4 linked regions of the Homo sapiens genome follow. The protein of the gene in region 4 interacts with the protein of the main gene of each other region in a pairwise test. Each region holds a gene or a part of one and is shown on either strand. Other genes may lie near its edges.

Region 1 (7,575 bases), on a different chromosome or scaffold from region 4:
CCTGACCTCATGTGATCCGCCCGCCTCGGCTTCCCAAAGTGCTGGGATTACAGGCGTGAGCTACCGCGCCCAGCCTGCGTAGAGCCTTTTTCTAAGACTAAGGGCTGGATGGGAACTAGCATTTCTTACCCCTGGATGTGACCTGTTTTAGCTCAGCCGGGAGAATCCTTTTTCGCAAGAAGTTAATAATATCTTGTGACGTGAAAATTATGTGAAACTCAGACTTCAGTGTCCATAAATAAATATTACTGGAACACAGCCGTGGTGCTCATTTGTTAAGATGTTTATGTGGCTGCTCTTGCATGGGCAGAGTTGATGACATAGTTGTGACAGACCATGTGCTCTACAAAGCCTAGAATATTTACTACCTGGACCTTTACAGAAGAGCTTGCTGACTGCTCCCTTAGAATGGGGCTCTGCAAAGTGAGCACACCCTGGGATCACAGCCCAGCCTGCCCTTAGAACAAATGAGAGGATATTTTCAAGCATTTGCATTGCAGTTTTCACGGTTTTTTTGTTTTGTTTTGTTTTTGAGACAGAGTCTAGCTCTGTCGCCCAGGCTAGAGTGCAGTGGTGCGATCTCGGCTCACTTCAGCCTTCTCCTGGGCTCAAGCCATCCTCCCACCTCAGCCTCCTGAGTAGCTGAGACTACAGGTGGATGCCATCACGCCCAGCTAATTTTTTTTTTTTTTTAAGAGATGAGGGCTCACTGTTGCTCAGGCTGGTCTGGAACTCCTGGGTATTTATTTATAGACAGAGTCTATCTCTGTTGCACAGGCTGCAGTGCAGTGGCGTGATCTTGGCTCACTGCAACCTCTGCCTCCTGGGTTCAAGCAATTCTCGTGCCTCAGCTTCCCGAGTACCTTGGACTACAAGCGCATGCCACCGTGCCTGGCTAATTTTTGTATTTTTAGTAGAGACGGGATTTTGCCATGTTGGCCAGGCTGGTCTCGAACCCCTGACTTCAGGTAACCCACCTGCCTGGGCCTCCCAAAGTGCTGGGATTACAGGCATGAATCACTGTGCTGGTCCTTCACTGCATTCTTCCTTTTCTCCTGCTTTGCTCTATTTCAGGAAGTAGGAGGGCTTATCTGTGTATTGTGAGCAGGGCAATATAACTTTGCAGCTCTCTGTCAGGAAAGTGTGCCCAGGGTCTATTCTAAGTCTGTCACAGAGCAGTAAACCAGGACCTTTTCTAGGGTGTGGCTACAGATCCTTTCGGACTGCATTTACTTTTTCCTCTTACAAAGAAAAAAAAAACAGTTGTGGAAGTAGATATTGTCAGATGAGTGAGCCTGCTGATCAAGATCTCTTACATTTCACTGAGGGATGGAGAGTGTTTTAGGTGAATATCTGGTGATCTGAAACGTCCTCTGCCCTTGGAGGAATTGAGGAGGCAGTTCTGAGGCTGGGTAGCAAATCTCTGAGTTAAGTAGTTGAGTCACAAATCTTCTAGGAGGCTGGTGGCATGATTTTCTCCTGCCAGCTTCATGGAAGCTTTTTCCCTGCAGCCCTTGGACCTTCTTTTCTTTTTTTTTTTTTTTTTTGAGACAGAGTCTCACTCTGTCCCCCAGGCTGGAGAGCAGTGGCGCGATCTCGGCTCACTGCAACGTCCACCTCCAGGGTTCAAGCAATTCTCCTGCCTCAGCCTCCCTGGTAGCTGGAATTACAGGCGTGCGCCACCACACCCAGCACATTTTTGCATTTTCAGTAGAGACGTGGTTTCACCATGTTGGCCAGGCTGGTCTCAAACTCCTGACCTCAGGTGATCCATCCGCGTCGGCCTCCCAAAGTGCTGGGATTACAGGCTTGAGCCACCGAGCCTGGCTGGACCTTCCTTTCTCAGAGATTACTGCCAACTTGGGTCACCTTGTGCATCTTTACCTAAGTAGGTGGACCCCTAGCATGGGGAGAGCTGGCATGGCATGGCTGAGGGCCACTGAGAGGCCTGGGCAGGCACAAGGAACATGAGCTGCATGTTAGTAGTTAGGATGAAGTGCATGACAGCAATGACTAAGAATTCTATGTATATATATATATTTTTAGATGGAGTCTCGCTCAGTCGCCAGGCTGGAGTGCAGTGGCGTGATCGCAGCTCACTGCAACCTCCACCTCCCGGGTTCAAGCGATTTTCCTGCCTCAGCCTACCGAGTAGCTAGCTGGGACTAAAGGCGCGCGCCACCATGCCCAGCTAATTTTTTATTTTTAGTAGAGATGGGGGCGGGGGTTCACCATATTGGCCAGGATGGTCTCGATCTCTTGACCTTATGATCTGCCCGCCTCGGCCTCCCAAAGTGCTAGGATTACAGGTGTGAGCCACCTCACCCAGCCTTTTTTTTTTTTTTTTTTTGAGATGAAGTTTCGCTCTCATTGCTCAGGGTGGAGTGCAATGGCACAATCTTGGCTCATTGCAACCTCTGCCTCCCTGGTTCAAGCAATTCTCCTGCCTCAGCCTCCTGAGTAGCTGGGATTGATTACAGGCGCCCACCACCACTCCTGGCTAATTTTGTATTTTTAGTAGAGACCGGGGTTTCACCATGTTGATCAGTCTGGTCTCGAACTCCTGACCTCAGGTGATCCACCTGCCTCAGCCTCCCAAAGTGCAGGATTACAGGCATAAGCCATCGCGCCCAGCGAAGAATTCTAATACTTGACTTCTACAGTGTGCTACATTCATTTTCTCACTTGATCTGACAACCTGTGGTCAAGGAAGCAGCGTGGGCCTTGAAGCTAAACACACAGGATTTGGAACTCCCCACCCACTCTCACTGGGTCCTCATGCTAATTACTTATCTCTCTCAGCCTTAGTTTCCTCACGGAATAATATGCCTCCCAGGGTTAAGAGGAGTAAATGGGATCTTGTGTGTAAGGCTCTGGTGCTCGTAGCTGGTGTTCGTTATTCTTACTGTTCAAGTATTCTTACTGCCACGCCTTTCTTGCAGGTGAGTCCTGCAAATGTTAAGTGATTTGCTCAAGGTGCCCATTTCGCAGGAATTGGAGCCCAGGCCAGTTCTCTGAGCCTATCATTAGGGCTAAAGGTGAGCAGTCAAATGTTTTACCTCCGTGGGGGCTATTGGCTATTAGCTGCTTCCGAGTGAGGGACCTCAATGCAGGAAGCCACACTGTTGCCTTCTTGGTGTGAGTCCGTGGGACAGGGTGACTGCCTTGATGCCTGGGCCCGTGCTGCCTACATATTAGCTGAAAGCAGGGCCAGTCCTGTGGCTTTGCCCACTCACCTAGCGTTTAAGAGCAACTGCTCAGGGCTTTAAGCATTTGCCATGCCTGAAACCAGAGTTGGTTTCTGGGTTTATCAAGGACTTGTGGAAATCTCAAAATAAATCTCTTGCTTTCTGGACCATGAGTTGTTGCTTCCTCTTTTTTTCTCTGGACTTTCCCCAGAGGAAGAGAAAGCAGAAGTCTCAGGGCTGGAGACAGCTGAGGGGCATCAGCTGGTTCAAGGTGTGGAGTGTGGGCAGTGGAGTGAAGGCCTGGTTACCTCTCCAGTGAAGATTAGCCCCATAGAGCTTACTCTATGGGGAAGAACTTTTCTGACTCCTTCCTGTCTAGGGTAATAGTGGGGTGTTTGCTCTTTTCAGACTGTAATTTTTGCCTTCTTATCTTAGAACCCAAGGCCTGGGTGTTTGCGTAATTTAGCCTGGATTTTGATTCCTGTCCCTTTTTTCCTGGGGGGTATGGGGTGGTAATTCTTTACCTTCTGGTCCTGTGAGGGGAGAGGAATCCCAGGACTCTGGGTCTTGGGCCTTGGCATCTGGCCTTCGCCAGGGCCAGCCATAGCCTTGAGTTTGCTGCTCTGTCTGGGCACTGCCAGGTGCTGGGGTGGGGCCTCAGTCATTGTGACTGAAGATCAGGCCCACCCAGGCATTGAGGCCTCGGGCGGGGGGTGGTGCCCAGGCTGATGCAGGGGAACTGAAGCAAAAAGATTCCATCCCACAGGCCAAGAGCTAAATCAGTGTTACCTCCTTTAGCCAGAGAACTGGGTGCATCTGAGCCAGTGGAGATTTGTGACTTCTCCTTCTTCTAGGAGTGCGTGATCAGAATGGTGTCTGGACGGTTCTACTTGTCCTGCCTGCTGCTGGGGTCCCTGGGCTCTATGTGCATCCTCTTCACTATCTACTGGATGCAGTACTGGCGTGGTGGCTTTGCCTGGAATGGCAGCATCTACATGTTCAACTGGCACCCAGTGCTTATGGTTGCTGGCATGGTGGTATTCTATGGAGGTGGTGAGTAAGAGGTCAGGAAGGGAGGCGGGATAGGGCTCAGGCTGGACAAAGCTGCACTTTCCCTCTCCAAGGCTGGCCTTTGTAAATGTTGGGCTTGGGGCTATGGGGGTAGGGTGGGTTGGGCTGTCTCTGGGCCTAGCTGTCATTTGGGGGAGGAAGGGGTTAAGATGGGGGGCATCTCAGAAGGGTGGCTTCACAAATACTCTAGGGCAGGAGTTGGCAAACTTTCTATAGAGGGTCAGATAAATATTTCAGTTTTGCAAGACAGAATCTGTGTTGCAGTTACTCAGCTCTGCCACTGTATTGTGAGAGCAGCCATAGACAACACATACACACAAGTGTGGATCACGTGTTCCAATAAAGCTTTATTTGCAAACATAGGTAGCGAGCTGGATTTGGCCTTTGAGCTGTAGTGTTTTTTTTTTTTTTTTTTTTCTCTAGACGGAGTCTTGCTGTGTCGCCCAGGCTGGAGTGCAGTGGCGTGATATCGGCTCACTGCAAGCTCCACCTCCCAGGTTTGCGCCATTCTCCTGCCTCAGCCTCCCGAGTAGCTGGGACTACAGGCGCCTGCCACCGTGACCGGCTAATTTTTTTTTGTATTTTTAGTAGAGACAGCGTTTCACCGTGTTAGCCAGGATGGTCTTGATCTCCTGACCTTGTGATCTGCCCACCTCAGCCTCCTGAAGTGCTGGGATTACAGGCTTGAGCCATCATGCCCGACCTGAGCTGTAGTTTTTAACCAGCTCTAGAGAACAGGAGATTGAAGCCTCTCATGGTTTAGTCAGGCCACCGAATGAGGGACTTGCTTGCTCTTCCGGGATCCATCTTTTTTTTTTTTTTCTTTTTTTGAGATGGAGTTTTGCTCTTGTTGCCCAGGCTGGAGTGCAATGGCGTGATCTTGGCTCACTGCAACCTCCGCCTCCTGGGTTCAGGCCATTCTCCTGCCTCAGCCTCCCAAGTACCTGAGATTATAGGTGCCCGCCATCATGCCCAGCTAATTTTTATATTTTTTAGTAGAGATGGGGTTTCACCATGTTGGTCAGGCTGGCCTCGAACTCCTGACCTCAGGTGATCCACCCGCCTCTGCCTCCCAAAGTGCTGGGATTACAGGTGTGAGCCACTGCGCCCAACCTGGGATCCATCTTTGTAATCTTTGTCCCATGCTTTCAAATCTGTGCCTTGGGGCCCTGGTGAGCCTCATTTTCCCCATTTGTAAAATGGCAATACGATGCCATTGATGATAGCAGCTTACCATGTGCAGTTCACATATATCATCCCATTTTGTTCTTACAAGTTTGTGAGGTGGGCTCTGTTATATCCCTTTTACAGATGAGGAAATTGAGAGTTAGACAGGAGAGGCCAGGCCAGGCGTGGTGGCTCACGCCTGTAATCCCAGCACTTTGGGAGACTGAGGTGGGCGGATCATGAGGTCAGGGGATCGAGACCATCCTCGCTAACACAGTGAAACCCCGTCTCTACTAAAAATACAAAAAATTAGCCGGGTATGGTGGCAGGCACCTGTAGTCCCAGCTACTTGGGAGGCTGAGGCAGGAGAATGGCGTGAACCCGGGAGGCGGAGCTTGCAGTGAGCTGAGATTGCGCCGCTGCACTCCAGCCTGGATGATAGAACGAGACTCTGTCTCAAAAAAAAAAAAAAAAAAAAAGAAAGGAGAGGCCAAACAGCTAAGAGGCAGAGCCTGGATTTGGACCTATGTTGCCTGACCTTAGTACCTGTGTTGACAGCCAGCCTCACTTGTGACAATTCAGTTTGATGAAACAATGACTGTCATGATGCTTTTTAGCCTAGAAACTGCAAACAAGCTGAATTTATTATTGTGAAAATAGAATGAGAGGTCCAAGAAACCTGCTTCCCCCCTCCACTTTTTTTTTAGGAGACAGGTTTCCCTCTTTTTCAGGCTAGAGTGCAGTGGGATGATCATAGCTTGCTGCAGCCTTGAACTCTTAGGCTCAAGTGATCCTCCCACCTCAGTCCCCCAAGTAGCTGAGAGAACAGGCATGTGCCACCATGCCCGGATAATATTTTTTATTTTTATTTTTTGTGGACACAGGATCTTGCTATGTTGCCCAGGCTGATCTTGAACTTCTGGCCTCCCAAAGTGCTGACATGAGTCACCGTGCCCAGCCCTCCTCCCTTTTTAATTGGAATCTGTTTATTTATTTATTTCTCTCTGTGGCCCAGGCTAGATTGCAGTGGCATGATCATAGCTCACTGTAACCTCAAACTCCTGGCCTCAAGCAGTCCTCCCACCTTGGCCTCCCAAAAAGTGCTGGAATTACAGGCATGAGCCACCTTGCCTGACCACTCCTCCCTTTTTAACTGGCCCTTCTCTCCTCCCTTCATGGCTGTTATCCCACAAATCATGGGAGGGTAGAAGATGCCGAGGAGTTGATACCAGTGCCCTAGCATTTCCTGTTCCCTTGCTGGGAAGCTGTGTAGGATCCTATCAGGGTTATTCCCTGATGTCTGGGTGAGCTCGAGGGGAGAGGCTGAGCCCTGGCACTACTCTCTCCTGCAGCGTCACTGGTGTACCGCCTGCCCCAGTCGTGGGTGGGGCCCAAACTGCCCTGGAAACTCCTCCATGCAGCGCTGCACCTGATGGCCTTCGTCCTCACTGTTGTGGGGCTGGTTGCTGTCTTTACGTTTCACAACCATGGAAGGACTGCCAACCTCTACTCCCTTCACAGCTGGCTGGGCATCACCACTGTCTTCCTCTTCGCCTGCCAGGTGGGTTCTCTCTGTTCTCCTCCTCGAGGTTCCCAGAGCCATGAGCTCTGGTTGGGGGTTCACTTGCATGAGCACCAAATATTCCTCTGCTCACTGCTTGGAGAGGGACTTGCAGATTGTTATCTTGTAGAACTGACAGTTTATTCAAGGGCTGTGGGAGGTCAGTGGCCTGAACTTACCCTGTTCCTTTTATCCCTCCCATTGCCCGTCTCTCGTCCCAGAGCCCTCTCTGCTAACTTTGTCATGGCACGCACTATGCTGACTCTAATCAGCCATCTGGCTTCCACTTTCCCCACTCCCACCTCTGTGAACCAAAAGAATTCTTGAAGTGGTTTCCATATTCTGATCTCAGGCCTGTGCGAGTGAAGAGTTTTATGAGCAAGGACTGGAAGGAACCAGAGACAAACAAGGTGGTTGGGTTTGCTGGGAGTGGGATGGTAGCTAAGCATGTCATTTACTGTTCTTGTTGCTTGGGTAATAGGCCACAATGAGGAAGCTAGCACGGTAGTGGGCAATGCCAGGTGGGAAGGTTTGAGTTGTGAAAGAAGAGCCAGGGAGCAGAGATGGGGAGGAGGCACTGATGGGGTG
Region 2 (7,575 bases), on a different chromosome or scaffold from region 4:
GATCATCACAGCTCTCAGTTACAGAAACTGCCATGAAGACGCTGGAAGTACATGCATGAGAAAGCTCATGTAGATGTGGGGTTTACTGTGGTCCCATAAACAGTAACGAGAGGAAACCCCCAGAAATGTACAAGTGATGGACGCAGGAAAAACTGTGGCCAAACAAAATTTTAGTTTGTTGTGTTAGAGTATGACTAAAACTAGCAACCCAAGTTCAAAACCAAGCATCCCAGGACAGACAAGTCAGCAGGGCCGCAGGACAGCAAAGGGCTGGAGTGGAGCTGTGCCCAACTCATCCAAATCCCCTCGCCTCTCAGGCCAGAGGCCCCGCCGGCCACCCACTCCCACCCTGGCAAACGGCTTCTGTTACTCAGTGGCCTATGCTGAAGACAAAGCAGGTGACAACCAAATGGCTCAAGAGGGGGAGGATGAGGCCAAGGGAGGAGGGGAACTCAAGAGTCAAAATGGCTTCTGTGGGCCCCACTTTGGTGCCCTGTGGCGGCCAGGGTGACAGACGGGCAGTGAAAAGCCCCCAGATCCCCACTCAGCTCCTATGACATCAAGAGCTACCAACATGGCCTTGCGTTAAAATAAATGCATGCCCACTATGGGAGGCCGAGGCGGGAGAATCACCTGAGGCCATAAGTTAGGGACCAGCTTGGGCAACATAGTGAGACCCCATTAGTACAAAAAAAAAATTTTTTTCTGATTAGCTGGGTGTGGTGGCATATGACTATAGTCCCAGCTACTTGGGAAACTGAGGCAAGAGGATTGCTCGAGCCCAGGAGTTTGAGGCTGCTTTGAGCCATGATTGTGCCACTGCACCCCAGCCTGCGCAACTGCACCCCAGCCTGTGCAACACAGCAAAATCCTGTCTCTAAAATAATTTTTAAAAATTAAAAAATAAATAAATAAATGAATGCTATCATGGATAGATGAGCTTTAGGCAACCATGAGGCAGAGGCACCTAGAAAGGTCCTGAAACCTCCATTTCAGGGCAAGTGGAAAGTGCAGGGAACTGCATACATGATTAAATCCCAGAAAGAGATGAACTCACAGAAGGGGACTAAGAAGGGCTGGAATGTGTCTTCCTCACGCAGACAGGTAAAGCACACACAACAATAAAAGCATGGAGAGAAGGAAGCAAGGGCGATGGGTGAGCGCAAAGCGAGGAGGCAAAACAAAAGGCATCCTCCCCGGCTCCTCAGGACAGTTGCAGAAGAGACTGGATAATCCTCCAGGTTACAGAATGGGGGTGAAGGCACGTGCTGTGCTGCGCCAACTCCAGAGCTGTGTGCAACCGTGAGCATCCGTAAACCTCCCTGCTGACTGTGACCCTGCCACACCTGCTCCTCGTACTGCGCCGCTACACCTGACCTCAGGAGGACCCACAGCCGACTTCAGGAGGACCCGGGTGCCGGGACCCTGGGCAACCATAACAATGAACAAGGGCCTGATTAAAAAAAAAAAAAAAAAATCTGCAGGGCATGCTAGTAAGCAAGAATGCAAGGTGCAGAACAATATATACGGAGTGCCGCGTTTTGTGTAAGAAAACAGAAATAAAATATACATATTTACATTTGCTTGTGCTTACACAGGGAGAAACTGGAAGCTTACACACACACACACAATTAGAAAGTTTACCTGTGGGGGTGGGAGATGAGGTGGATGAAGAAAGGAACGCATTGTAAATCTTTTTTAAAGCGTTATGAACCACGTAGTATTTTACCAACTCAAAAAGTTAAATTCCACCTTTAAGAAAAGATTGGGTGTTACTGATGCCAGTGGCAGAGTATCAACACAAAATAACCACAGAATCCATTCTACAGAGGCGCAAACCAAAACGTAGAGATATTTACTAAGGGTCTCTTTCTATGTAATCAATAATTAACCTTTTACATGCGTGTGGCAGTTGTGTTCACTCATCATCTGGCAACTCACATGTGAAAGAGAGGGGCTGCCAAGAGCCCTCACCCAGCAAATGTCGCCCCGAGACAAAGTGAGCTTGAGTCCTGGTCTCAGCTCAGCGCTCCCTGCCCTGCAGCCTTTGACCAGCCCTTCTGTGTTCCACTCAGCTGGTCGCTCAGAAGCAGCAAAGACAATGCCTGGCATAGAAAGGGGTCAGGCCCGAGGGTCTCCCACTGCATCAGTGGTGAACTTCCTGCAGCAGGGCTCCGCCACCCTCACACCAGCCACCCTGACATCAACTGTTAGTTGTGCTCAAAAGCCACACTCCCCTGTTCTTCTACGTGGTAATGGAAACTTTAATTATTTCAGCTGGACATATGAGCCTTAAGAATCAGGACTGTGTGTTTCCCAGAGTCACTAGCTGCAAGGAGTAGCCATCTGGCTAAGTTCTGATGGAGGATGTTTGAGCAGAAGTGGTGTCTGCATCTGCTGAGAAATGTCCAGGAGACGAAGTGGGGAGGGAGGGGACCCTCTGCTGTTCCCTTCTCCATCCCGCTGACTGGAGCTGGAGAAGCCGCCTTCAGCCCTGGGGCGCCTGGCCTGGATTCCTGGCTGGGTGAAGCGACAAGCTGGACTGACCAACCCCAGAGGTTAACCAAAGAAAACCAAAGCCTTATCTTGTTGAAGCCAATGTTATTTTGGGGCTTCCATCCTAACTGGCAGACACCATCCAACAAAACCTTCTCAACAGGCTTCCATGCAGGGTTGATGCTTCACTATTGCTATGTCCACAGAACACTGGATGGGAATGCCAGCGGCAGCCTGAGTCAAAGGCACGAAGAGCCATCCAGACTGCAGGGTAACTAACACTCCTCTTCACAGACCAACAGACAGACCGACCTAGTTCCTGGGGGCCTTCCCAGGCGGCTAGGAGACAGCATCCTAAAATCACAAACCCATGTGGTCTCACGGCCTCCCATGCAAGCGGAAGCTCCTGCATGTTATATGGATTGGTTGGGCAGTGCCCTACTATTTCAGAGGAACCAGCAATGTCATGCAAGACTACATGGCTGTTGTCAGAAACACAAAGCTACGGCTGGAAAAAAAAAAGAAAGAAAGTTGCTTAGATATTTTAACAACATAATAGAGCATGCCAAGGAGGCTCCAGTCCTGCAGAACTCCACCTCCTAACATGGCCGATCCCCTGCCGTCCCTGTGGTCAGGGGGCTGGGCCCTGGCAGTGAGGCCGTCAGATGTAGCTAAGGGGGCCCCACCTATGATCAGGGATTGGGGCAACAAATGCTGCTTTGTCTGGGGGCCGGTACAGCTAGCTCATCATTACTAGGGTACCAGCATGAGGATGACCAGTGAAAGTAAATACCATTGGCTGGCACAATCTCTTCATAAAAATAATAAAATTAAATCTCGATTGGCAACCAGTTAACAAGAGGTGCCCTATATATTTCATTCCTGACCTATAACTAGCAACCGGTCGAATATGCTCTGAGTTTTCAAAGGCTACACGTTACTTCAACACATATTTGGAATTGGCTTCACTCCACCCTAGATTAATGGACACCCATAAATTTGGCATAAATATGACTCTGAAATGCTCGGGATGACATATTCAAAGGCCTCAGTTCTCCATAACAGAGTTTAGGAAAGCAGTTTTATTAGAACTGCTAACCACAAAATATTAGTGTTAGTGAAGTTTCGTGCACCGAATGCCATAGTTTCCTGTTTCCATTCAAGTAGTCACACATCAATGCCTGCCCACTGGTAACAATACTGGGCGACATGGCTGGCACCTGGCCCTGAACCAGTGACCAACTGGGCATACGTGACTGCTAAGATTCCCAATGTGAGATAGTGCTTCTCAGCCTCCCTTGCAGCTCTATGTGGCCCCCAGTGGACTCTTGCCAATGGAATGTCTGTGTGTCTTCTGGTCTGTCCTGAACAGACCTGAGCACTCTCCTCTACGCTCTCTTTTCCCTTCTGGAAGAGCTGGGTCATGCTCGTGCCTACAGCCAGCTCTGACCAGGCAGATGAGGACAATGTCCTGGGGGAAGATGGAGCAAGACAGAAGATGTCTAGGTCCACAGAGGCCTGTGGCAAAGCTGGCCAGCCAACGCGGACTGCTCACTTCAGGACTGGAAACATCTCTTCTTTAAAGCCACACTCCATTGTGGCAGTTGGAGGGGGTCTCTTTATCATAGCAGTTTCAACCTTCAGTCTTAATGAAGAATCACACACAAAATCCAAGTCCCCATTGTCCATCCTGAGACCTAAAGAATTACATGGAGATCTGACAACAAAGATAAAAAAGATATGACTGTTTGGCTTTTTTTTCCTAGGTTATCTGAGCTTTCAATGAGGGCTGGGCGAGAGACCTGAGATGGCACAGGGTGGAGCTGTCACCTCCAGTTCCGGATGTCTGTGTCAGAGACATGAGGGTGATGGGGCCACTGTCGCCAGGGCTTGAGCAGCACAAGTCAAATGTCGGCGAAAGACTATTGTGCTCACATTCTGACACTTCAGTCATTCTGAAAACCTTCAAAAATAGTTTCACCTATTTCTCTTCCCTCTACATTATTAATCTAATAGGAAGGTATTTAAAGGTGAAGTGAGGTCACCACGGCACTGCAGAGAAAAATCTTTTCTGAACACAAAATTCCAAAGTTGGCCATCAAACAGAATCTGGGGAAAGAGGGATCATTTAATGAGTCTGACAAGAATCCTGAATGATACACAATTTGGAATTAGGGTGATGATTTTCTTTTCCTCAGTCTTTCTTGTCATACAATAGTCTTTCCATTTCAGGGGAATAAACCTTCACACAAACTTGATACATACAAAATACCCTCAGCTACTTCACTGCAAAAACACAAAACAATTAACAAAATATCCTCAAATAATGTTTTCTTAAAAGCACATGCCATCCTAGCCAGTTATATCCCCCATACAATCTATGTCATTAAATGTCAACTAAGAAAAATGGTCAGAAGCAGCAACTCACTTGTTCAAACAGAGACGGCCTGATGTGTTCCCAAAATCCTCCTCCGTGAGCTGCCAGTTTTTAACCGATCCTTTCACAAATCCTGACACCATTATGAAGCCCAGGACCAGGACGTTAATACAAGTGAATATTTTGTTGACCATGGCCGACTCTTTCACACCAAGAGTTAAAAGTCCTGAAAAAGTGCATAGACACAAAACTTTGTCTGAGTGTTAACCACAAACTGGGAAGGTCCTTCCTGGATGGGGATAAGAAGGCGACTGAAAAAGAATCCAAGTGCATCGAGCCTCTGCAGACCTCTGTGAGCCTCTGGGAATGGGGTGGATTAATTATCTTTCTGGGGGCGGGGATCAGGGGTTTAAATCACCAAGGTTGTGGGTGCTTCCCAGGCCCTCCTAGGTGACCTCCAGATACCCTTGGGAACTGAGAAGCCCACCCAAGGGGCACCCGAGAACTGCAGAGATCTGGAGCATGAGCCCCTCTCATAGGGAGGGGAAAGCCTGGACCCGCACACCAAGCCGCTCCCTCTCACTAAAAGGATGCGTTGCTGGGAAACAACCTCTAGGAACAATTCCAGGAAGAAAGACTTTGCATAGTTTCCTGGGAGAATGGACATTTTTCAGAAGAGGAAATTATTCTGGTTGACTTTGGGATGTTAGTGATATTAACAATAACAACTAGCTATGGTTCTGGAACCACTAACACACATGGTTCTTCGTTGGACTCAGTGCATATAAAATAACATCTGAGCTAGGCTAGCTCTAGCTTGCAAACTCACGTTTTTTTTTTAAAGAAAACTATAAGTAATAAAGATGCCCAGGAACCTCTGACAGCACTGCCTTTGAGGCACATGCCCCAGCACCACCTTAGGGTGAAGAGGTCATTCGGGTACTTCCATAGCTGAACTCTCTGCTGGGCAAGAAAAGTGGCACAGAAGGGGTTGGTACCACTCGAACACAGCCAGGATTTGAGACCACTGCTCTGCCATGGACGCCTCTCATCGTTTTAAAATAAAAATTGGCTAGGTGCGGTCGCTCACGCCTGTAATCCCAATACTTTGGGAAGCAGGCAGATCTTTTGAGGTCAGGAGTTCCAGACCAGCCTGGCCAATATGGCAAAACCTTACCTCTACTAAAAATATAAAAGATTAACTGGGTGTGGTGGTGCGTGTCTGTAATCGCAGCTACTGGGGAGGCTGAGGTGTGAGAATCGCTTGAACCCAGGAGGCAGAGGTTGCAGTGAGCCAAGATCGCGCAACTGCACTCCAGCCTGGGTGACAGAACAAGACTCTGTCTCAAATATAAAATAAAATAAAATAAAATAAAAACTGCTGTACTTTTGAGATTGAATTATAAAGTACAGATGTTAGAAGAGAATTGTGTAATTAATCACAGGGAGAACACCTCAACAAACAACAATATATTGTTTCTTTAGTGTCCCTCCCTCTCAGGTTTATTAAAATGAAATCTCACTAGTGCAGACTTACTTTCTGATGCATGTTTCTGCCAGCTGGACCAGAAATACTGCTGAGACCAGCCTGAGTGAAGTTATTTCAATTATGTGGTGTGTAAAATAAGGCATGTCATTTTTAAAACTCATCCAAGATTTTCTAACCCCAAATGAGAATTTATCTGCATTTCAGCTTCATGTTTATGGAGCCCCACAGAGCAAAACTCGCGCTGCACTGGCCAAGACACGCACAAATGTCACTAGCAAGAAGTTGCCATCAGCTGTGTTCAGGCAGTCTCTGGGATTTTTCAAATTCTGTAACCACAACTCTGTCATGAAACTTATTTACTGAAAGGGTGTTTTGATGGTTGTTAGGTGTAAAAACCATCCAAGTCATCTTCAGACGCCCCAGGCACACATTAGTGTTCCAGACGGAGCTCATTCCTCCACATTTTCCTGGCTGATGAATGACAGTTTTGCTTTCCAAATGGTCATCCACTGAGTCAAAAGAACTTTTATTCCCAGGACACTCACACAAAAAGCCTGCAGTGCAGACAAAATCTTATTCCACAAACAGCTAGGCTAAACACCTAAGATTCTCTTTTAATGAAATGGCACACAATTCAACAGCTATGAAGCAGGCCGGCCCTATCTGAATCTATAAGAAGCAATGAAGACAGGAACAAATAAAGATGCCTGCATGCAGTACAAAAACAAAACAAAAAGAAATGGGGGTTATGGTTAAAGAGATAAGTAAAGAAAGGAACTTAACAGGAGCCTCTCACCAAACCTTTGCCCATCACTCTGACCCGATCTCTTTTTAAGTGTGGGCTTTACCTGTCAAGATGAGAATTATGATCACTGCGAATATGTCGGGGTTTTCAGCCAGCACGCCGGGGGCGTTCAGAGTCATGTGTGTCCGTGAGAACTCCCCGATGGGTCTGCCTATCAGCTCGTCGAAGGTGGCGCTCCAGGCCCTCGCTACGCTTGAAGTACCTGCCACAAAGCACACACAACAGAGGAGATGTGAGGACAACTGTTAGCCAGGTATTTGTAGTGGAGCTCCATGTTGATAACATCATTGCAGGAGTCACCGACGGTGCACTGGAATCTGGCAGCAGCAGCCAGACCACAGTGTATGCTGAGCCAGAAGTGACGGTCGACTAGTGCTAAGTGCGAGAAGGCTTCTAGGGCCTACAGAG
Region 3 (6,468 bases), on a different chromosome or scaffold from region 4:
GGCTGCACCCCCATCAGAAACTCCCTTTCACCTGGCATCTGTCCACCACAAGGTCTCATCTCACTGTCATTTCCTGAGAGGCCAGAGGACAGACATGCATGAGCACAGGTCAGCTGGAGCGGCCCTGGGGCGCTGGGCCTGCTCACTTATGCGGCCGTGTTTATTGAGCACTGGCCCCGTGTCCCTCCTGGCGCCTGACCGGGCACTGCACGTTCCTGGGTCCATGGACAGCACACAAGCCACAGGGACAATCAGGGGAGGGGGAAGCCCTTAGCAGTGACCCACGAGGCCCAGTTGGTCCAAACCCCTCTGTTCTCTTCTCTGCTGGGCCCACAACTTGGTGGGGACAAAAGTGGGGTGACTGACTATGGTCTGGCCTATTCTGCAAGCTTTGGCTCTGAGTCACAGCATACACAATGGCCTCTTCCTAATCCTTTCTCAGGCTTGTGGATAGATTTAGCTCCTTATTCTGTGAGCTTAAAAATACCCAGTTCCTCACCTTTGCAAAGTATCAGCTGGACTTTGGCTTTGGCTCTATGGGGGCTGCAAAGTGGACCCAGCAGCTACCTGAGCTGGCGTGGCTGTGGCTGCAGCTCTGAGCAGCCAGCTCTTCTCCAGGAGACGCTGAGTGCAGGGCCTGGCCGTGGCCGTGGGCTGCTATAGGCCCTGCTGGTGGACTGGGGCTATCCTAAGTGCCTGGCTTCATCACTCTCTGAAGGCTCCTGCCTACCAGCATCCTGTCAACCACTAAATCTCACTGCCACTTCCTGGGAGACGGGAGGACGGCCCGCGTGAGGACAGGTCTGGGTGCCTTGAGGTCATATCAAGCCCAGGGCTTCAGGGCCAGAGGGAGGCGGCCCTCAGTCCAACTGCACTTCTCACCACCTGCACCAGCCTCAGTTTTCTCACCTGTAGGATGACGTGGCCACTGGGAGAGTGACAGAAAGCTATATATGGAAAGTGCTTACACAGTGCCTGGCACAAGGCAAGAGCCCCCAAAATGGCAGGGAAGATGGTTACACAAGAGTGAATTTGGGTCTTCTGGGCAGTTGCGTTTGATCTAAGTGAGGGCCACAAGCAGGCAGTCTGTGAGTGCCTTGGGTGGCACCAGGCTCTGCCTTAGAGGAGGTCCCCTCCTGTGTAAGACAGAGGCAGAGAGGTGAGGGGTGCCAGCAAGAAGCAGCTTTGGGGGCTAGAAACCATCCCCTCAATGGTCCCAGCACACAGAAGGTGCTCAGCCGGTGCCCCTCTCTGCAGCCTGCTTCACCCAGCAGGCTTCTCTAATGTCCCCATTCCCAACCCTTCCTACCCAGGCATCGTGGGCTCCCAGGGGAGCAGCACCCATGGCTGGCAGGGCTGCCGCCAGCACTCATGTGTACCTGCAAGCACAAAACAGCCAGATAGGGACAGAGCTGGGAACAGAGATGCAGGAGCAAAGAAACCCGACAGGGGCTGGGGTGTGAGGGTGGGGGGTGAGGAGGAAGAGCAAGACCGGAAGGGGGCATTTTTTGAGGCTGGAAATGAAACCTTGCCCATCCAATTTACATCCAATGTGAATAGGATGCAAGTCAAATGTGAAATGAAACTGCAAATTTAAAATATGCCCAGGGCTAGAAGGAATAAGAAAGTGGCGTCAGAGAACCATCTGCAAAGCCTTTGGCTAAATTAAAAATAGAGAAAGAGTATATGAAAGATTTTTTTAAAAAGAGAATGATTAAAATGTCAAAACATTGAGAAGCCCTTGGGAAACTAAGCCTTCCATTTCTCCTCCTCCTTCTCCCCCTCCTTCTTCTTCTTCTTTTTGATGAGGGTAAAAAGTGAGCTTCATTAACATGTTGATGGCTTCCTGTGGACAGTTTTGTTGAAAAATGAGACTTCTCTCAATCAACACTGGATGGAAATTTTGTTAAACATGTAACAAACTTCCTATTACTTCTCATTAGGTAAAGCCCCAGTCAAACCTTTTGCTCATGATATACTATGAAATGTTGGCTGTTTGACGTGTACTTACTAAGAGTGGCTGGTTTCTGGTACCAGTTATCCTGGATTAACAAAGGACCTCCTGAATAGACCAATTTAGTTGTAGACTCTCCAAGTTGAAGAGCAGTAAAATGTCAACTAAACTCACCACTTGAGGCTTGAATTTTATTTTTATTTTATTTTATCATTTTATTTTAGAGACAGGGTCTTGCTCTGCTGCCCAGGCTGGAGTGCAGTAACACCATCACAGCTCACTGCAACCTCAAACTCCTGGGCTCAAGTGATGCTCCCACCTCAACCTCCTGAGTAGCTGGGACCACAGGTACATGACACCGTTACAGCCTGAAGCTTGAATCTTTGTCCCCATGGCTGCCAGCAAGAGGTTGCAGATGCTCTACCACACACCTCCATGGCAGGAAGCTCACGGGTCTTCAAGCACCTCTTCCAGCGTCCCATCTCTGGAATGGCACTAACTTCTCGGAGCCATGGGATAAGGGAGCGTTTCATAACAGAGCTGGGCTTTCCAGATTCCTAACTCAGTGCCTCCTTCCTAATCATCCCATCTCCTTTCAACCCAGACATCTCAGACTTGAAACATGGCATTCACCCCTTGTCACCGTACTTCCTTTCACTCTGTAATTTCCTCTCCTTTCTCTCCTATGGAGTGGCCCGAGGAAATTCTAAAATAATGTATTATCCACACAATGGGAACAAAGCAGACTGCCCAGGAACACGCTGATGAGCTTCACAATGAGTGAATGAAAACTTGTGCACCGTGTTTTCTTTTGGTGGAAGGAGGTTCTAGTGGGGCACAGACTGTTGTGTCTTGTAGGAAGGAGAAGCTGCCCCTGGCTGGCACTTGGCCAGTTTCCAGAGAGAGGGGAAGCCATCTGGGCAGGTAGCTGGGAGGGTGGGCTCCCCAGCACCGGGCTCTGAGAGTGCAGTGGCCTGGCACACACAGTGTCCGTCGTCTGAACTGCCACCTGATGCTGTCTCTTGAGATTCAGGTTAAGTCAAAGGATTCCTCAGAAAGAAAGCTGAATTGATGGTATTCTTGATGCTGAGGAATTCAACCCAAACCCAAAAAACACCCAACAAATGTATTGAACATTAAGACATTTTATAAAGTATTTCACAGGGTTATCGTCTTCCACCATGGACCTCTGGAAAGATCTGTTGGGTGAGTTTTAGTCCCCATGACATGCAGAACATCCATGAAGACTTAAAACATGGCACAAGATGGGGCGCTCGGGAGAGCTTGTGGACAATACCAACAGGTAGTTCTCGAGAGCTGCTCCAGGGGTCAGCAGAGGATCTTTCTTTCCTTCTCAGGTCACGGTCGCCACTTCCCACCCCCGAACAAGAAGGTCCCCTTTCACAAACAGGAGGTGACCCTAGCAGACAGCACAGCAGTTGGAGGTTAGACACAGCAAGCTCCCAACCCGGACGCGAAGGCACACGGGAGAGTAAACACAGCACCCACGAGCAACAGGGCAGGGCTTTTTTTTTTGGGCAGTGGGGGGGTGGTTGTTTTCTTTTTTCCACCATCAAGGGCATTTCTGTTTTCTAAAAAGTTATGCCGGAAAGTGGGGCGGCCAGTTAACACCATCTGGGTTTTCAGCTCAAGTTCTACTGCGGCTTTATGAAGACTTCCATCTGATTAAAGAGAACACCGCATGGACCACGTAGAGCAGAGTGGCTATGTAGGAGAACACCTGGAACCAAGAGAAATGGCCGTTAATGGGTTTGTGTAGGGAGGGCGAGGCACAGCGTCTGCACTGCATCCAGCCCCACGTGGCGTAGGGGGGGCCAGACCCAGAGAGCTTGGGCTGTCATTGCTTCTCACCCTCACATGGACGCCCTCCCTGCTGAGCCCAGGTGTGCACCAAATCCTCTCAGTACAGAGCTCCATGTGACCTAACAGTCTCCTGGATCTGGTGTGGAAGGTAAGACTCTCCACTATCACCCAGCATCACATTCGTCTCAGCTTGAGGTTTCGGCTGACTTGAGATGGAGTCCTCAAAGACCCCTCCAATGAAAGCATCTCAGGCAGGTAACTCTCCAGGGACAACTTCCTCCCCCAACACCAGTGAGACCAGCGCCCTCCAGCTGTGGTCCTGGTAGCTCGGTTGAGAGATTGTAAATACCTGGGTTTGCTGGCCCTGGTGAAAGTCTCCATGCTGCCTGGACATTCTCACCCTATCATTATTTTGTTTTAGGATTCTTAATATCACAGGTGTGGCTGAGAGAGCCAGACTTCATAGGAAGTGAGGGACAGAGAAGGGGAGAAGGGATTTTGAGCTTTTGTCTAAAGGAGGGGCCTTACTGTTGGGACCATCCAGTCAGCCACTGTGGCCCTTGGAGCGATGGCCCTGCTTTCTGGGGACTTGCTGTGTCCTCCTGGGCACTGTCTGCTCCCATCACCCTACTCCCTGAAGGCCTGCCTGCTGCCAAGTCCAATCTCTGCACCTGGTTTTGTGACCTTGGTTAGGGGTCAAGAGTTTCCAGCTCAGGCACGACGTCCATTTAGGGCGGCTACGCCTCTGTGACTCCTGAAAATGCTCATCAATCCCAGCCCTCAGGGTGCCTGCTCTCCTGCCCCTACACCTGGCCAAGCCCTTTCCCTCATTGCCTGGAGGCGGTGAGTAAGCTGAATTATTGAATAACACATTTAAGAGAACGTATCTGGGCAGGAGCAGTCAGACACCAGTGGGCAGCCCTCCATAAAAGGTGGGCATTCCAGACCAATGAAAGCCTTTGGCAGAAGCACCTTGGAAGTCCCCAGCAGGAAGAGCAGTGGAGACTCATTTTCCAAGTGGGGTCAAGAAATGGCCCACTGGGAACACGTAGAGCTGGGCACGAATGGGCAAATTTTGGCTTCAGAAAGCCCTCTCCCTAAACTGTAGCCATCACTGCCCACCATTGTATAATCTAGAAACCTCCAGATTTCTCCAGAAATTTCCATCTCGCCCCAGGCGACTTCCACCCATCCCTGGGGTCCCTTTGGCAAAGCAGCTCCGCCACCCACAAAGGAGAGAGGGAGGAGCTCAGCTTGGAACAGACCCTAATTAGTAGCCACACAGTGGATGTGAGGCAGGCTGGCTGCTTCCAAAACCAGGCTGTGTGAGAGAGGGTGTGAGGTGCCTCCCTGTACCCAAGTATCCCCTGGACTGGGCATGCTGTGGTTGGGCGGGTCTGGGATTGAATCCTGAGTAACGAACTTCTTTCTCTCTCACAGACGGATGCAGTTGATACCGTGAGTTGAAAGGTGTGACTTTACATCGAACGCCGTGCAGATTTCCCCTTGGTGGTTTTATCTGGGCACATCTGCCAGCTGAGAACACTCTGGTTCTCAATTCTAACGCTCCTGTCTGCGTGAACATATTCGTGTCTATCCAACTCAACTAAAAAAAAATGGGAACATGGTCAGTCATGGGATGGATAAATAGATGTTGGTCTATTCCTACAAGGGAATACTATACAGTAATGAGAACAAACAACCCACATCTACACCCAGCCACTTGGGTGAGTCTCACAAACACAAGGGTGAGAGAAAGAAGCCACACATGAGTACCCACTGTATAATTCCACTTATATGAAGTTCAAAGGCAGGCAAAACTGAACATGGTGCTAGAAATCAGAATTGGGTGGTGGTGGGGGTGCACAGTGATGGGGACAGGACTTGAGGGGATTTCTGGGAGTTGTTTATCAGGCCCTAATTCTTAGTCCAGATGCCAACTACACTGGGGAGTTTGCTCTATGAGAATTCATCAGACTGTGCGCTGGTAACTGGCCCTAATTCTTAGTCCAGACACCATCCACACAGGGAGTTCGCTGTATGAAATCCATCAAGCTGTGGGCTTGTAACTGCACACCTCTCTGGCTGTGTGCTGCCTTTGATAAAAGGTAAAAGAGGAAAGTCAGAAGGCAGTAGAGCCTAGTGGTTCTCAACTAGAGACCTGCCCAGCGGGAAGGGGTGTTCATTCCCCTAGCTGGGTTTTTCCATCAAGTGCTGACCCACTAACCACATCCCATCTACATTTCGCAACCTTTGTTCACAACAATTTTATGGAAATTATTGTCAGACACTTTGTTGATGTTTGTTAAAAGAGAAGGCTTGGCTGGGATGGGGGAGGTATGAGGCAGTCTTGGGAGAGGGAGATGAGATGGAATTGTGTGAAGAAGATGGAGGGTGGCTCACCAGCCTCCCCAGGAAGGAAGATCAGTCAAGATGCCCCCTGGCTGTGCTGCTGCTTGGAAACCAGCCATGTTGGGAGATGGGCCAACACGGGAGATGTTTCCACACCGCGGGACCCCTGGGGGGATGCCAGGATCCTGAGGGGGCCCTTTTTAGGGGAGCGATTGTAGGCTGGGAGCTTGAGGGCAGTGTGTGGTTTCCCCAGGGCAGGGGACTGTGCAAGGGGACCAGCAAGTGAGGCTTTGAGGGATTTTCCCCTGGGGCCCTCCTTCTGGGAGTGGGAAGAGGCA
Region 4 (7,575 bases):
TTGTAGTTCCTCATTCTGGAGGCTGGGAATCCCCCAAGTACCTGGCTCCTTCATCCCAGCCCCTCTGGCCTCCCCCTACTTTAGAGGGCTGTAGATTCCTGCCTGAAGCCTGGGCAGGAATGACCCATGGTATCAAGGAAAGCAAGGGAAGCAGCAAGGGAAGAGAGGGAGTGGGGAGGCTGCTTTGGTCCCACAGCTTTCACTTTCACCTGAAGCAATGGCTCTTAGGGAACAGGGAGGCAGGGGGAGGGCGGAGCTGGAAAGAGGTAAAGGGGGGCCCTTGTGGTAGGAGTGGAGAAAGAGCCAGAGGAGGTGGGGTGAAGGGTGTGATCCAGGCTTCTCAAGAGCAGAGTTTGCCCTCATAACTCCCAACTTTGGCTCCAGGTAGAGGCTGGGCTGTGACAACAATGTCAGAAGCTATCTATTGAGGGCTTCTTGTGTGTCAGGCTCTGAGCCAAACACTGCCTGTTTTCTTTGTCTGATTTCTCACAACTCCCCCATTATACAGATGGGCAAATTGAGGCTCAGAAAGGGGGATTGTCTTGCCAAAGGTCTCATAGCTAGCTAATGGAAGAACCTGGTTGTGAATCTACATCTGCATGATTCCCGAGCCTGCCTCTCAGATAGTGAGAGTCTCCAAGCTCTGGTCCTGAGCTGTTTTGTGGCAGAAGGACCAGAACTATGGGGAGTGAGAACTGGAGATTGACAGACTTTTAGGGGAGCGTTTTATTTCTCATGTGTTTGAAGATGGTATCAAGGACTTTCCTATCTTTGGGAGTGTGGGAGCTCCACGTTCACAGGATGGTGTCTTGCAATGAGCTGGTGGGGGGCAGTAGCCTTTTCTACTTCCTTTCCCATTTTGGGTAAGACACATTTCTGTAAGTAATTTGCTGAGATACCCAGGTTGAATGAGAGCCACCAGTTAGGTAGGATTCTGGACAGCCAGCCAGGTAGCCGGGCTGCTTGCCATATATCATGCAAGCAGAAACAAATGAATGATGATTAAAATTGCCATTTAATGAGCACCTACTATGTTCCTGACACTGTGCTAGGCCATATACATGTATTCTTTCTTATCTTCGTAATCCAACCTGCAGGGCAGGCATTATTACTCCCATTTTAGAGATAGAGAAACTGAGGCTAAGAGAAGCAAAATAACTAGTAAGTGTTACAAAGTCAGGACTGGAGTCTAAAGCTGTCTGACTCTCAAACTTGTGTTCTTTTCACTGGCTGTTCCCAAACTGTGGGACAGTTTTAAGGAGCACATGGACATAGAATTAAACATACACTTACTTTACAGTTCTTTTAAAAATCCTTCTCATTTTTTCAAAGAGGAAGTCTCTGGAGCTAGAATAGAGTTAATGCCTCTCAAAGGCTTGCTAATCCTTCTTTTAAAACAAAAATCAAGAGCAGGCCTGGGAGGGCCTTCAACAAGCAAACAACCAGCTGGGTTTTAATAACCTTGTTTTGTTTCCCCAGAATTTATTTTTAGGGTTACCTTTTATTTATGAGAAGTGATACTGGTTCTTGTCTCTTGGCAATGATGTGAGGTTTACATTTAAAGTAAATGTACCGGCCAGGCACGGTGGCTTGTGCCTGTAATCCCAGCACTTTGGGAGGCCAAGGCAGTCAGATCACTTGAGGTCAGGAGTTTTAGATCAGCCTGGCCAACATGGTGAAACCCTGTCTCTACTAAAAATACATAAATTAGCCGGGCATAGTGGTACACACCTGTAATCCCAGCTACTCAGGAGGCTGAGGCTGGAGAATTGCTTGAACCCAGGAGATAGAGGTTGCAGTGGGCTGAGATGATGCCACTGCACTCCAGCCTGGGCGATGGAGCGAGACTCTGTCTCAAAAAATAAAATAAAAGTATTGAAATTAACAATAAGTAATTAATAGCATGGGTGGTACCTGGATGTAGTAAAATGGTGAAGATGAAACACAAGTTGATGGAGAGAGGAGCATTGAGACCTGAGTTCTCATTTGGACTCTGTCACTGTGAGACTCTGGGCAAGTGACCCTCCTCTTTGGTGCTCAGTCTCAACTATCTGTAAAATGAAAGTGTGAGTTTACCCTTCCAGCTTTACATTCTAGCATTTTATGAGGGAAGGGCTGGATGAACAGATGATGAGGAGTTGGAGGAAGAAAACATGATGGGCTTTGGAAAGGAGCAGGAAGGGAAGCAGAAGAATAGGAGGAAGAGGCCAAGTGCTAAACATAGCCCCAAACAGCACTGGGACCAGCTGAAGTCAGCCAGCTTCAGGACTCCAGGGGAGCTGCTGGAGTCCCCATATCCTATGGGATCTTTGGGAAGAGGAATGACTCAGGCATCAAGCCCCAAGGAATTCTGTTCTGTTCAGAGAATATTGTGAGTTTACAGTACCATTGCTTTGTAAAAATACCAGAATGATTCTCTGGGTGCGATTATAATCAGCTCAGTTGACAATTTACTTGAAAACAAACATGCCAAATATCATGCAGGTTCCACTTTCTGTTTTGACTTGCACTTCAGTTTGCAGCCTCTGTCCTGGATGACTTTTACCTTTCTGCTGAAGAAGTTGCAACGGAGATTTCAAGATCCCTTCAAATTGCACAATTCTGTTTTTAGGTCCATCCAGAACCACCCACTGCATGCAGAGAAAAACAGTACCTAATAAACAGTCAGTGCTGTTCTTTGTGCCAGCCAGGTGAGATGCCAACCCTCTAGCCCCATCATGGAGTCCCCCTTTGCTTTGGTGGCAGACGCAGACCCCATATGTTAACTGTAAACTCAAATCTGAAACGACCCATTTCCCAGCCCTGCTTCACTGTCAGAATGTTCTGGTTCCCTCTCTACCAGGTAAAACTCTGTCTACCCTGAACTAGGGATCCCAGCTTCTCCATCTTCCTCGCCTGATTATGAAGGATCCAAGACTTTCATCTTTGAATCCCCTACCCTAAAGCCTGGCCTGATCATTGTGTGGTTAGTGTCTGACTCATGGAGTTGGCCAGAGCCCTCCCTCATTTCCTGATGTTTTCCAGGACAGAAACTGGTGAGTGACTGCACAGAGTTCACTGAAACGGAATGCCTTCCTTGCGGTGAAAGCGAATTCCTAGACACCTGGAACAGAGAGACACACTGCCACCAGCACAAATACTGCGACCCCAGTGCGTGCGCTGTTGGGAAAGGGACGCTTGGGAACCGGGCTGATATTCCCGACAATGCAGCCATTCTAATTTTATGTAGCCAGGGTCTGCTCTGATTGGTTGGAGTCCGGGCTGTACTGATCATTAAATGATTTGATTGCCATCTCTACTTGGAAGAGGGTCTGAGGAAGAAAGAGCAGGCAATGTGGGGAGTGAGGCTCAGAGCATGGCCCAGCAGGGGGTTCCCATCCTTCCTGCCCTTCTCTTCTCAGACCTAGGGCTTCGGGTCCAGCAGAAGGGCACCTCAGAAACAGACACCATCTGCACCTGTGAAGAAGGCTGGCACTGTACGAGTGAGGCCTGTGAGAGCTGTGTCCTGCACCGCTCATGCTCGCCCGGCTTTGGGGTCAAGCAGATTGGTAAGTGGCTCATCTGGGAATCAGTTTTGGAGGGGGACAGAGGAGCTTAGGGCCCAAGGTGAGGGGCTGGGCAGTGGGCACTTAGCCCCAGAGGCAGAGGAAGCAGAGGCTCCAACCTATGTCGGTATCCCCACTGGAGTGAGCTGCAGACGGGACCTTGTTCATTCTGCCTTCTGCCATGGGGATCTGCCTTTGAAGGGCAATGGGAGAAGTCCTCCTGGGGACTGCAGCTGTCGGGGGCAGTACCACATCGGGGGAAGAGTGCTCAAGGCAGGAGCTCTTCCCGTCCTGCCTGGCCACTGGCTGCCTTGTGAGCCGGACAGGTGGTCCACTGTGATGGTTAATGTCCCCCTCCCCACCCACTCCCAGCTACAGGGGTTTCTGATACCATCTGCGAGCCCTGCCCAGTCGGCTTCTTCTCCAATGTGTCATCTGCTTTCGAAAAATGTCACCCTTGGACAAGGTATAAGCACTCATCCCTTGTGTTTCCTGCTCTAAGAGTGGCATGGAGCTGCCTCCATTCTCTCCAGCCACCTGTCCTGTCCCTGCTCCCAGAGGTCCACACACACTCATGTACTTGTGAAGCATCTGCAGAGTGGCCTCATGGCCAACCAGACAGGCACATTTCCACATTTTTTTTGCCTGCTGTCTCTTTGAGGTAATAGACACTGTTGATCTCTCGCTTCATGAGAGCCTCCTATCTTGGGGGTATTGGGACACTTATTTTAGCTTTCCTTCTGCCCCTCCTGCTTCTCCTCAGTTTTCCTCGTCTTGCTTTCACCTTACCTGGCTTTCTAGGGCTTTCTGGGCTCTGGGTGCTCACCCTGAGGGCCTCCCTCTCTTACCTCCAACTCCAAACCCACACCAGGTCCTGCCACTGGCTGTCTACGTGTTTTGGGAACTTACTGTCTCCACTGTTGTCACTTTAGTTTGGGCCTCATCACTGTGGTCTGGGTGATGCCTTTTCTGCCTCCTGGCCTCCCTGCCTCTGTCTCTCCCCTCCTGCTGGTTCTGTCTCCATCCTCTTGCCAACATGAGCGTTCGACAGTTTCTTTCAAATCATGACACTCTCCTATTTGAGATGCTTCCTGTCTCTCTGTTGGAACTAAGACTCCTTAGCATGGCACCCAACCTTCCTGTTGCATTTCCTGCTCTCTTTCCTGCATCGCATAGCTTCATGCTACTTGCAATCCTCTGAACACACTGTTCATTCTCTTCCATCAAACTCATCTGCCTGGAATACCTTAAACATGGGCCCCAGGCCAGGCGCGGTGGCTCTTGCCTGTAATCTCAGCACTTTGGATGCCAAGGCGGGTGGATCACTTGAGGTCAGGAGTTCAAGACCAGCCAGCACAACATGGTAAAAACCCATCTCTACTAAAAATACCAAAAAATTAGCTGGGTGTGGTGGTGGGCGCCTGTAATCCCAGCTCCTCGGGAGGCTGAGGCAGGAGAATCACTTGAACCCGGAAGGTGGAGTTTGCAGTGAGCCAAGATAGCGCCACTGCACTCCAGCCTGGGCAACAGAGCGACATTCTGTCTCAAAAAACAAACACCTGCCCCATTAACTTTTTGCATTTGATTTTTAAAAATGGGCAAGATAGGCACATGGGACAGAAGGCACAAAAGAGCCAAAGTGATGTCTTTCTCCCATCCCTGCCCCTTAGGCTCCCAGTTCTTTCTGGAGGGAGCCATTGTTCCTTGCATATCCTTCCAGAGATTCTACATATAAACAAACCAACACACACACACACACACACAAACACACACAAAATTTCCCTCCTTTTACTTTTGCACAAATAGGAGTATACATTTTATTTGTTAACTGTCTGCCTTTCCCTAATAGATTGAAAATTCCTTAAATGTAGAAACTTGGCCTTTTTTTTTTCTTCCATTGATACATCCCCTATACCTGGAACAGTACCTGACGCATGGTAGGTGCTTAAATTTTTACTGATAAATGTTGACTGATAACTGGAGGCACCACTGGTATAGTTTTTTTTTTTTTTTTTTTTTTTTTTTTTTTTTGAGACAGAGTCTCACTCTGTCGCCCAGGCTGGAGTGCAGTGGCGCAATCTCGGCTCACTGCAAGCTCTGCCTCCCAGGTTCACGCCATTCTCCTGCCTCAGCCTCCTGAGTAGCTGGGACTATAGGCGCCCGCCACCACACCCGGCTAATTTTTTTGTATTTTTAGTAGAGACGGCGTTTCACCGTGTTAGCCAGGATGGTCTTGATCTCCTGACCTCGTGATCCGTCTGCCTTGGCCTCCCAAAGTGCTGGGATTACAGGCGTGAGCCACCGTGCCCGGCCACCAGTGGTATAGTATTAATGGAATCAGTGCATTGGCTTACGTATCTGATTACAGCTCAGTAAGTGTGTGACCCTCACTGAGCCTCAGTCTCCTCATCTGAAAAATGGGAATGACCTTCATTTCACAAGGCTTGAGCTAAAAACATGTAAAGTGTATTGTAAATTCCTGAATGCTCTACTCATGTAAGACTAAAGTAGGCCGGGCGTGGTGGCTCACACCTGTAATTGCAGCACTTTGGGAGGCCGAGGAGGGCAGATCATGAGGTCAAGAGATCGAGACCATCCTGGCTAATATGGTAAAACCCTGTCTCTACTAAAAATACAAAAATTAGCTGGGCGTGGTGGCGCACATCTGTAGTCCCAGCTACTCAGGAGGCGGAGGCAGGAGAATTGCTTGAACCTGGGAGGTGGAGGTTGCAGTGAGCTGAGATCGCGCCACTGCATTCCAGCCAGTCTGGCGAAAGAGCAAGACTCTGTCTCAAAAAAAAAAAAAAAAAAAAAAAAAGACTAAAGTACATGGTTTCTTCAAAGCTTCTCTCTCTTTCTCCCACCTTAGATGATTTTTCCTTTGCAATGTCCTGTGTCCATTCCGCCCCACTCCTCCTGGGGCCACCTGGACCAGGTCTTCATCATCTCATATCTATATGTTTGCTGTGTCTCCTGGCTGGCCACTCTTCTGTAATTTCTCCTCCTCTGAGCTCTCTGGGCAGCTGAATCTTCTCACTAGTGAAGTCGCCTGGTTGGATGCTGATGAGACTGACCAGCTGAATCCAGTTGAAAACTTCACACTTGGCAGTGATCTGGTTCTAAAGACACAATTTTCCATAGTTTCCTAACACCATCCTGCATGCCACCTGCCTTATTTCCCCACATCACATCGTCCCACTTAGCGGGACTGCACTGCTGATCCAAATTTTACATCCTTTAGGGCCCACTCAGGTCATATGTCCTCAGGGAAGTCTTTCTGGAAGAACCTTAAACCAGAGGTTCTCAACAGGGGGCAGTTTTGCTCCCTGTGGAACGTTTGCCAATGTCTGGACACATTTCATTCGTCACAAACGGAGAGGGGGATGCTACAGGGATCTGGCGGATAGAGGCCAGGGATGCTGCTGAACATCTGCAATGCATAGGACAGCCCACCCCCACCCCCACACCCCCAGTAAATAATGATCCAGCCCAAGTGTCACTGGTGCTGACGTTGAGTAACCCTATCTTAAGCTGAACTCATCATCTCTCCATTCCAGCCTTGGTGGATTCTGTCTCCTCTGAACCATTCCCATCTCACTTTAGCCTACCTAGATCACAAAGCTTGGCACTCATTATAGACTCCCCTATTTATTACTCCTTCAAGATGTGCAAGAATCTTTTCTCTGCACTTTTAAGTTCTGTAAGAAGAGTCTGTGTCGTTCCTATAATAACCAGCATAGGACGTTGCACGTGTTGTGTGCTCAGTGAACCTGGATTTGTTGATTGTTGACTGACTCACTCTAGAGTTGGAAATCTTATGCTTGGGGAAACTTAATATCTCTTTCTTTCTCTGTGTGTGTGCATTTGTGCACGTGTCTGTGCATAGCTGTGAGACCAAAGACCTGGTTGTGCAACAGGCAGGCACAAACAAGACTGATGTTGTCTGTGGTGAGTCCTGGACAATGGGCCCTGGAGAAAGCCTAGGAAGGTGGGAACTGAAGGGGGAGATGAGGCACACAGGAACACTGGA

What was found.
Region 1: the proteins of CD40 (region 4) and CYB561A3 interact in binary tests that used the Homo sapiens proteins (3 or more experiments, as listed by UniProt).
Region 2: the proteins of CD40 (region 4) and SLC7A1 interact in binary tests that used the Homo sapiens proteins (3 or more experiments, as listed by UniProt).
Region 3: the proteins of CD40 (region 4) and MAL interact in binary tests that used the Homo sapiens proteins (3 or more experiments, as listed by UniProt).

The regions. Positions count from the first base shown.
Region 1 is NC_000011.10:61,353,196-61,360,770, reverse strand, and holds part of CYB561A3 (lysosomal membrane ascorbate-dependent ferrireductase CYB561A3), read left to right. Parts: exon of another isoform or gene 1-1,345; intron 1,346-2,942; 5' UTR 2,943-3,038; intron 3,039-3,399; exon of another isoform or gene 3,400-3,532; coding exon of another isoform or gene 3,533-3,568; exon of another isoform or gene 3,569-4,042; coding exon of another isoform or gene 4,043-4,057; coding exon 4,058-4,241; intron 4,242-6,778; coding exon 6,779-6,987; intron 6,988-7,208; exon of another isoform or gene 7,209-7,339; coding exon of another isoform or gene 7,340-7,397; exon of another isoform or gene 7,398-7,575. UniProt on the Homo sapiens protein: Transmembrane reductase that uses ascorbate as an electron donor in the cytoplasm and transfers electrons across membranes to reduce iron cations Fe(3+) into Fe(2+) in the lumen of the late endosome and lysosome.
Region 2 is NC_000013.11:29,525,614-29,533,188, forward strand, and holds part of SLC7A1 (high affinity cationic amino acid transporter 1), read right to left. Parts: intron 7,370-7,575; coding exon 7,211-7,369; intron 5,100-7,210; coding exon 4,925-5,099; intron 1-4,924. UniProt on the Homo sapiens protein: High-affinity, low capacity permease involved in the transport of the cationic amino acids (arginine, lysine and ornithine) in non-hepatic tissues.
Region 3 is NC_000002.12:95,050,608-95,057,075, reverse strand, and holds the end of MAL (myelin and lymphocyte protein), read right to left. Parts: intron 3,696-6,468; coding exon 3,621-3,695; 3' UTR 3,084-3,620; downstream 1-3,083. UniProt on the Homo sapiens protein: May be involved in vesicular trafficking from the Golgi apparatus to the cell membrane. Plays a role in the maintenance of the myelin sheath, and in axon-glia and glia-glia interactions.
Region 4 is NC_000020.11:46,119,209-46,126,783, forward strand, and holds part of CD40 (tumor necrosis factor receptor superfamily member 5 isoform 1 precursor), read left to right. Parts: intron 1-2,611; coding exon 2,612-2,690; intron 2,691-3,024; coding exon 3,025-3,150; intron 3,151-3,401; coding exon 3,402-3,548; intron 3,549-3,917; coding exon 3,918-4,011; intron 4,012-7,431; coding exon 7,432-7,493; coding exon of another isoform or gene 7,494-7,533; exon of another isoform or gene 7,534-7,575.